2 linked regions of the Homo sapiens genome follow. The protein of the gene in region 1 purifies or fractionates together with the protein of each later gene. This does not show direct contact. Each region holds a gene or a part of one and is shown on either strand. Other genes may lie near its edges.

Region 1 (3,933 bases):
CTACCCACTAATTCAGATCATTAAAATGCTTTAGGAAGTCTTAGGATTTTTTTTTTTCTTTTTAGAAATCACTTAACTCTGATGTGTCATAGTGTGCCCTCGGTAGCTCTTATTATAGGTTTTTAGAGCTTCACTCCTCTGACCTCGCCCATTTTTGGTGATGTCCTTGGTTTTTGTAGGGCTTTCCACTACTCCTGGTTGGACAAGCTCTTCTCCAGGGGCTGCATCCTATTTTTACATGCCCAGTTTGACTCAAATTTAGCTCTTAATTTCTGTCTATTGAAAAATACAACAATCATTTGCTCTTAATTTCTGTCTATTGAAAAATAAAACAATCATTTGATCTTATGGTTTTTCAATGTCAAGAATTTTCAGAGGAGGAAATTTGCTATAATTTGTGGAATTCTCTAGGGTTCCTGAACTTTTCTTTTCAAAGCAGTCTTTTCAGATTTGACCTCCTCAATGAAAAAAATCATATGCCACACAACCATACTCAGATGAGCTTGGGAACTAAAGGCTGAACACTATATTACTTAGAACTATAAAAGTAAAGAAAACTCATATATAATTATTTTACTTTCAAAAACTAAATGTTCAGATCATACTTTTTGCCTTAATCAGATGTGATGAAAAGTTTGGAAGAAGCAACTCTTTTGTATAAAATACATTTGTAAAATTCTAACCAATTGGAAACTTATTAACCCATTTCAATCCATGTTCGAATCCCTGCCCTGTCACTTACTAGCTGGCTTTGGGCATATCACTTAACCTCCCTGTGCCTCATCTGGAAAGAAGAAAATAGAGTCTCTATCTCACTGCATTTTTGTATGGATTAAATGCAGACTGACACATAGTAATCACTCAGTAAATGCTAACTATCGTCATTTTCATATATTTCTTCCAGTGTCATCACTACATATGGGTATGTGTTTAGCTAGCAGGGGAACAAACCAAATTAGAGAACAAAATTACACACTGTCATGCATTTCATATGTAAACCACAAATGGACTCTTTATTTAAAACTATGGAAAAATGGTTGCTTCAAATTTAGTTGGCTCCAGATTTTTTTACAAAGGGTTTTTTTTTTTTTTGGATCTTAATATTAAATACAGTCAGGAGTGGTGAGAAACCTATTTAGCCTCTGAAGAGGAGAAATTAGGAATTAGGATACCTGCTCATCTTCTTTTTCACTCTGAGATGTGAACTAAAGGACCATAGGCTCAATAAGAGCCTGTTCCTCTAGGACACTTTATGTCTGATAACAGTACTCTCCCTTTGTTTTACAGGTTCGTTGGGGTGATAAAGGATCTACTGAGGAAGGTGCAAGGCTAGAGAAAGCCAAAAATGCTGTGGTGAAGATTCCTGAAGAAACAGAGGAACCCATCAGGCCTAGACCACCTCGACCCAAACCCACACACCAGCCTCCTCAGACAAAATGGTACACCCCAATTAAGGTATGTGTCCAGATTTTGTGTAATTTAACTCAAAACTTCTGGAGACATTGTAACTTTTTTTGTACCACATCCCCCCAGCTACTTGAAAGAGGGTAGATGAAATTGCAGATATTCATTGTACACTCTTAACAGCTGAATACTTTCTTGGCAATAAGAACCTCTAGGTTTTTATTACTTATTAGTTTACCTTATGAAAGAAATGAGGGTAAAGAAGATTTTACTTTCTTCGTTTTATGTCTTCATTTATTCAGTACATAGAGATTGAGTACATTCTCTGGGAATTCACAAATCTCATTTTCCCTTAGGGTCGTCTTGATGCTCTCTGGGCTTTGTTGAGGCGGCAGTATGACCGGGTTTCTTTGATGCGACCTCAGGAAGGAGATGAGGTTTGTATATGGGAATGTATTGAGAAAGAGCTAACTGCTTGAGTCAGTATAATGGAGGCAGGGAAATAGTAATAAAAAATGATTTTAAAGCCCTATTGCACTTGAGGAAGGAAATACTGTCAAGTGTAGATTTCTATTACATAGAATTGTCTATAAATTACCTATTGTTAGAATGCATCTTCAAACTACATTTTTACACCATTCCCTTTTCAAGAAATTCTTTACAATTCTGGTCATTTGTACACATACTTTAATAAGCACAATCATTGCATCAGCCCTTGACTTTGAAGACAAAATGTTCCAACAGACTGGGAGTTAGTAGCTGAAGTCCTTCTCTAGCATTTAGTAGCATTTAGTAGCAATAAGGCCTAGGGCAAAGGCCTCAGAATCTGTTTTATAGATATAAATATGTTCCCTGCCTTCAACAGTTGATGTAATCGAATTTCTTGACTATTACGTAAAAGTGTCTTTAAAGTTATAAAGCATTATAAAAATCTGTGATAGTGATAAACACACACACATACACACATATGGATATGTATATATTTTTTCCCCACCAGGGAAGCCTGTCTGAGGCTATATTTTTGTTTTGGAAATATGGCTACAATTACTCTAGTTTTGTAATTTCAGTAATATAGTAGTACTATTTCCCATTGTATTGATGTAAGAAAAATTGATTAAAACCTTTTCATATGTAACAATGGATAGGTTTGGTTCAGAGACAGTACAGTTCATAATAGTAGTGATGCAGGGCAGGTGAGCCCTAAAATTGAAGGTTAGCCTGGGAGAGTTCTTAACTTCATCTAAGAAGGAATCTGATGCAGGGCAGGAAGGCTCCCAAATTGGAGCTTAGCCCAGGAAGGTTCCTGGCTTCATCCAGAAAAGAATTCAAGGGTAAGCCAGAGGTGTTAGCAACTTTTGTTGAAGCGACAGTGCATAGCAGCAGCAGAGGTACTACTCCCTGTGGAGCAGGGCTACCCTATAGGCATCGTGCTCAGAGGAGCAGCTCAGAGGCAGTTCTGTAGTCATATTGATACCCACTTTTAATTATATGAAAATTAAGGGGTGGATCATGCAGACATTTCTAGAAAAGGTGTGACAACTTCCGGGTCATCGGGTCATTGTCATGGAAAGTGGTGGTAACTTCTGGGTGTTGCCATGGCAATGGCAAACTGACATGGCACCCTGGTCAGTGTGTCTTATGGGAAAGTGTTTTTGCCCCATCCCTGTTTTAGTTAATCATCAATTAGGTCTGGTGTCCAAGCCTCACCTCCAGAATCCAGTACTGCCTCCTACCTCATTAGAATTGTTTTCACTGTGTGTCAACATGATCATTCCTCTGTTTTAACAAGGGAATAAACTTAATGAACTTCAACTTCAGGGGATTTTTTTTTTAAATGCGATTTGAGGGCCGGGCGCGGTGGCTCACGCCTGTAATCCCAGCACTTTGGGAAGCCGAGGCGGGCGGATCACGAGGTCAGGAGATCGAGACCATCCTGGCTAACATGGAGAAACCCCGTCTCTACTAAAAATAAAAAAAATTAGCAGGGCGTGGTGGCGGGCGCCTGTAGTCCCAGCTACTCGCGAGGCTGAGGCAGGAGAATGGCGTGAACCTGGGAGGCGGAGCTTGCAGTGAGCCGAGATCTTGCCACTGCACTCCAGCCTGGGCGACAGAGAGAGACTACGTCTCAAAAAAAAAAAAAAAAGTGTAATTTGAGAAAATTTATTCCTGGAATTTTCCCCAACAGATCATCATTTACTGTTTGCTAAGACCATAAGTAGAGAGAACTAGTTGGTTTATAAAGCAGTCTCTGTCATGATCCAATCACTGTGGTTCTTCATAATGACATTTGTATCTTTTTAAATTCATCTGTGATCTGGAGTTCTGTTCTGGAACAACATGTACTAACTCTTCTTCCTCTTCTACATGCTAGACTTTAACTTCATGTATTTTAAAATTGTTTTCATGCATCATCTTAGTTTTTATTCCCCAGGTTAGACACTAGTTTATTTGTTCAATAATTTTCACCTTATTAAGTGCTGGGTATTGAGCTAACATTGAATATATACTAGCCAATAAAAACAGACAGTG
Region 2 (3,933 bases), on another chromosome or scaffold:
GCTCAAGCCATCCTCCTACCTCAGCCCCCTGACTAGCTGGGACTACAGGTGCCCGCCACCACACCCGGCTAATTCTTTTTGTATTTTTAGTAGACACCGGGTTTCACTGTGTTTGCCAGGCTGGTTTTGAACTTCTGATCTTAAGTGATCCACTTGCTTTGGCTTCCCAAAGTGCTGGGATTACAGGCATGAGCCACTGCACCTGGCCTGGTGTTTTTTTTTTTTTTTTTTTTGAGACGGAGTTTCGCTCTTGTTGCCCAGGCTGGAGTGCAGTGGCGCGATCTCGGCTCACCGCAACCTCCACCTCCCAGGTTCAAGCGATTCTCCTGCCTCAGCCTCCCTAGTAGCTGGGATTACAGGCATGTGCCACCACGCCCAGCTAATTTTGTATTTTTACTAGAGACGGGGTTTCTCCATGTTGGTCAGGCTGGTCTCGAACTCCCAACCTCAGGTGATCCACATGTCTCGGCCTCCCAAAGTGCTGAGATTACAGGCATGAGCCACGGCACCCGGCCTGTTTTAATTAAATTTAAATAGCCACATGTGGCTTGTGACTGCTGTATAGGTCAGCACAGCCTTAGAGCCTTAGAAATGTACAGTCCCAGAATGGTGGGACTCTGTAAGCATATTCCCTTAGAATCCCGAAATGCAGAGCCATCAGATCCTTGGAACTTGAAATGTCTAAGAGATTCTTAGACCTCTTGAAATGAAGACCTCTGGCCTGGCGCGGTGGCTCACGCCTGTAATCCCAGCACTTTGGGAGGCAAAGGTGGACAGATCTCTTGAGTGCAGGAGTTCGAGACCATGTTCGCCAACATAGTGAAACCCTGTCTCTACTAAAAATAAAAATAAAAAAAAAAATTAGCCAGGCGTGGTGGCATGCATCTGTAGTTCCAGCTATTTGGGAGGCTGAGGTGGGAGGATGGCCTGAGACTGTGAGGTGGAGATTGCAGTGAGTCAAGATCGCGCCACTGCACTCCAGCCCCAGCAGTAAAGCAAGAACCTATCTCAAAAAAAAAAAAAAAAAAAAAAAAAAAAGAGCTTTGGAAATGTGAAACGTTATCATCACAGACCTAAGAAATTTTAGTCATTGTTCCCTAGGATCATAGGCCCTTAGAAACTGAAACTGTAATACACAGGAACCTTTGGGACTTGATAATACTAAACCTTTGGAGTTTCCAATTAGAAATGTGGATCTTGAGAAATCTGACATAGAGTGACCAAAACCTTCCTGCTTTTACCACCGAAACTCTCAGCCTTGGGCCAACCAGTACAGTGGGTCACCCTACCATTTTTTTTTTTTTTTTGAGTCAGGGTCTCACTCTTCACCCAGGCTGGAGTGCAGTGGTGTGATCATGGCTCACTGCAGCCTTGAACTCCTGGACTCAAGTGATCCTCCCACCTCAGCCTCCTGAATAGCTGGAACTACAGGCATGCGCCACCATGCCTGGCTAATTAAAAATAATTTTTTTTTTTGGCGAAGCATGGTGGCGGATGCCTGTAATCCCAGCACTTTGGGAGGCTGAGGCGGATGGATCACTTGAGATCAGGAGTTTGAGACCAGCCTGACCAATATGGTGACACTACTAAAAATACAAAAATTAGATGGGTGTGGTGGTGGGCACCTGTAATCTCAGCTACCCAGGAGGCTGAGGCAGGAGAATCACTTGAACCCGGGAGATGGGGGTTTCAGTGAGCTGAGATCACACCATTTCAATCCATCCTAAGTGACAAGAGCTTAACTCCGTCTCAAAACAAAACAAAAAAATTTTTTTGTAAGATGGGGTCTTGCTATGTTGCCCAGGCTGGTGTGGAACTCCTGGGCTAAAATAACCCTCCCACCTCGGCCTCCGAAAGTGCTTTGATTACAGGGGTAAGCCAGAGTGCCTAGTAGTCACCCTACTTTGATGTATCAGAACAATATTAGCAAAGACCAGAGAACTTTATAGTTATAGAAAGACCTTAGACCTTTAGAACTGTAGACCCTTGAACCTTAGTACTTAGTATTCATAGAGGTCTGGAACCTTAGAAGTGTTTAATCATCAGCATTAAAACTGGCAAAGACCCTGAGGAGCCTCAGAGATATGGAACGTCATAATCATAAGCCTTTAAAACATGACACCCTAGCACCTTTGACCCTTGGGACCTTAACATCTTAGAAACACGGAGCGCTAGAATCATAAAATATAGATGATCATAATCATGAATTCTTAAAACCCAAAGGTCAGAATCAGTTCCCTCCAAATCTTAGAACTTTAGTAACTCAGCAGTTTATAATCACAAGATGGATCTCTGATACTAAGATTTTTGGAACTTTATTTATTTATTTATTTATTTGAGGTGGAGTCTCACTCTGTTGCCCAGGCTGGAGTGCAGTGGCGCAATGTCAGCTCACTGCAACCTCCACCTCCCAGGTTCATGAGATTCTCCCGCCTCGGGAGTCCCGAGTAGCTGGGACTACAGGCCCGCACCACCATGCCTGGCTAATTTTTGTATTTTTAATTGAGGCGGGGTTTCACCATGATGGCCAGGCTGGTCTTGAACTCCTGGGCTCGGGCAATCTGCCCACCTTGGCCTCCCAAAATGCTAGGATTACAGGCATGAGCCATGGCGCTGGCTCAAGAAACCTGGCTGATCTAGAAACCTGTAGTCCCAGCACTTTGAGAGGCCGAGGCGGGCGGATCGCTTGAGCCCAGGAGTTCGAGACCAGCCTGGCCAACATGGTGAAACCCCGTCTCTACTAAAAATATAAACATTAGCCAGGTGTGGTGGCGCATGCCTGTAGTTCCAGCTAGTCAACAGGCTGAGGTGGGAGAATCTCCTGAGCCCGGGAAGCAGAGGTTGCAGTGAGCCGAGATTGTGCCACTGCACTCCAGCCTGGGCAACAGGTTGAGACCCTGTCTCAAAACAATAAGAAACCTGGTTAGGCGCGGTAGCTCACGCCTATAATCCCAGCGCTTTGGGAGGCCAAGGTGGGGGGATCACTGGAGGTTGGGTGTTTGAGACCAGCCTGGCCAGCACGGCAAAACCCTGTCTCTATTAAAAATACAAAAATTAGCTGGGTGTGGTGGCGCGTGCCTCTAATCCCAGCTACTCAGGAGGATGAGGCAGGAGAATCGCCTGAACCTCAGAGGCGGAGGTTGCAGTGAGCCTAGATCGTGCCATTGTACTCCAGCCTGGGCGTCAATAGCAAAACTCTGTCTCAAAAAAAAAAAAAAAAAAGAGAGAGAGAGAGAAATCTGTATATGCCACAAAGTATGAACCAGATTCAACTGGTGGATTGCCAGCTTTGTCTGATCTAGAAACCTAGACTGATGAAAACATACACTCATGGAAACTTACAGTCATACTTTTAGAGCCTTAGAACCTTAAAAAGGTAGGAACATATCAACTTAGAATTCTAGAATTTACTAATTTAGTGTAAGTGAGTTTGTTTTTAGTTTTGTTTGTTTGTTTTTGTTTTTGAGAAGGAGTCTTGCTCTGTCGCCCAGGCTGGAGGGCAGTGACACTATCTCGGCTCACTGCAAGCTCCGCCTCCTGGGTTCATGCCATTCTCCTGCCTCAGCCTCCCGAGTAGCTAGGACTACAGGCGCCTGCCACCATGCCCCGCTAATTTTTTGTATTTTTAGCAGAGATGGGGTTTCACTGTGTTAGCCAGGATGGTTTTGATCTCCTGACCGCGTGATCTGCCCGCCTTGGCCTCCCAAAGTGCTGGAATTACAGGCATGAGCCACCGCGCCCGTCCTGTTTTTAGTTTTTGTTTGTTTTTTGAGGAGGAGGGGGTCTCTCCATGTTGCCTAGACAGGTCTCAAACTCCCGGTGTCAACTCATCCTTCTGAGTAGCTGGGATTACAGATGTGTACCACCACTCCCAGCTGTAGAATTTATTATTATTATTATTATTATTATCATTATCATTATTATTATTTGGAC

What was found. Proteins that work in one complex are often made in the same cells at the same time.
Region 2: the proteins of ANTXR2 (region 1) and SPTBN4 purify together in Homo sapiens (affinity purification with mass spectrometry; one large-scale study listed by BioGRID and IntAct). This does not show direct contact.

What each region holds. Positions count from the first base shown.
Region 1 is NC_000004.12:79,975,529-79,979,461, reverse strand, and holds part of ANTXR2 (anthrax toxin receptor 2 isoform 1 precursor), read left to right. Parts: intron 1-1,287; coding exon 1,288-1,455; intron 1,456-1,760; coding exon 1,761-1,841; coding exon of another isoform or gene 1,842-1,883; exon of another isoform or gene 1,884-1,936; intron 1,937-3,933.
Region 2 is NC_000019.10:40,473,142-40,477,074, forward strand, and holds part of SPTBN4 (spectrin beta chain, non-erythrocytic 4), read left to right. Parts: intron 1-3,933.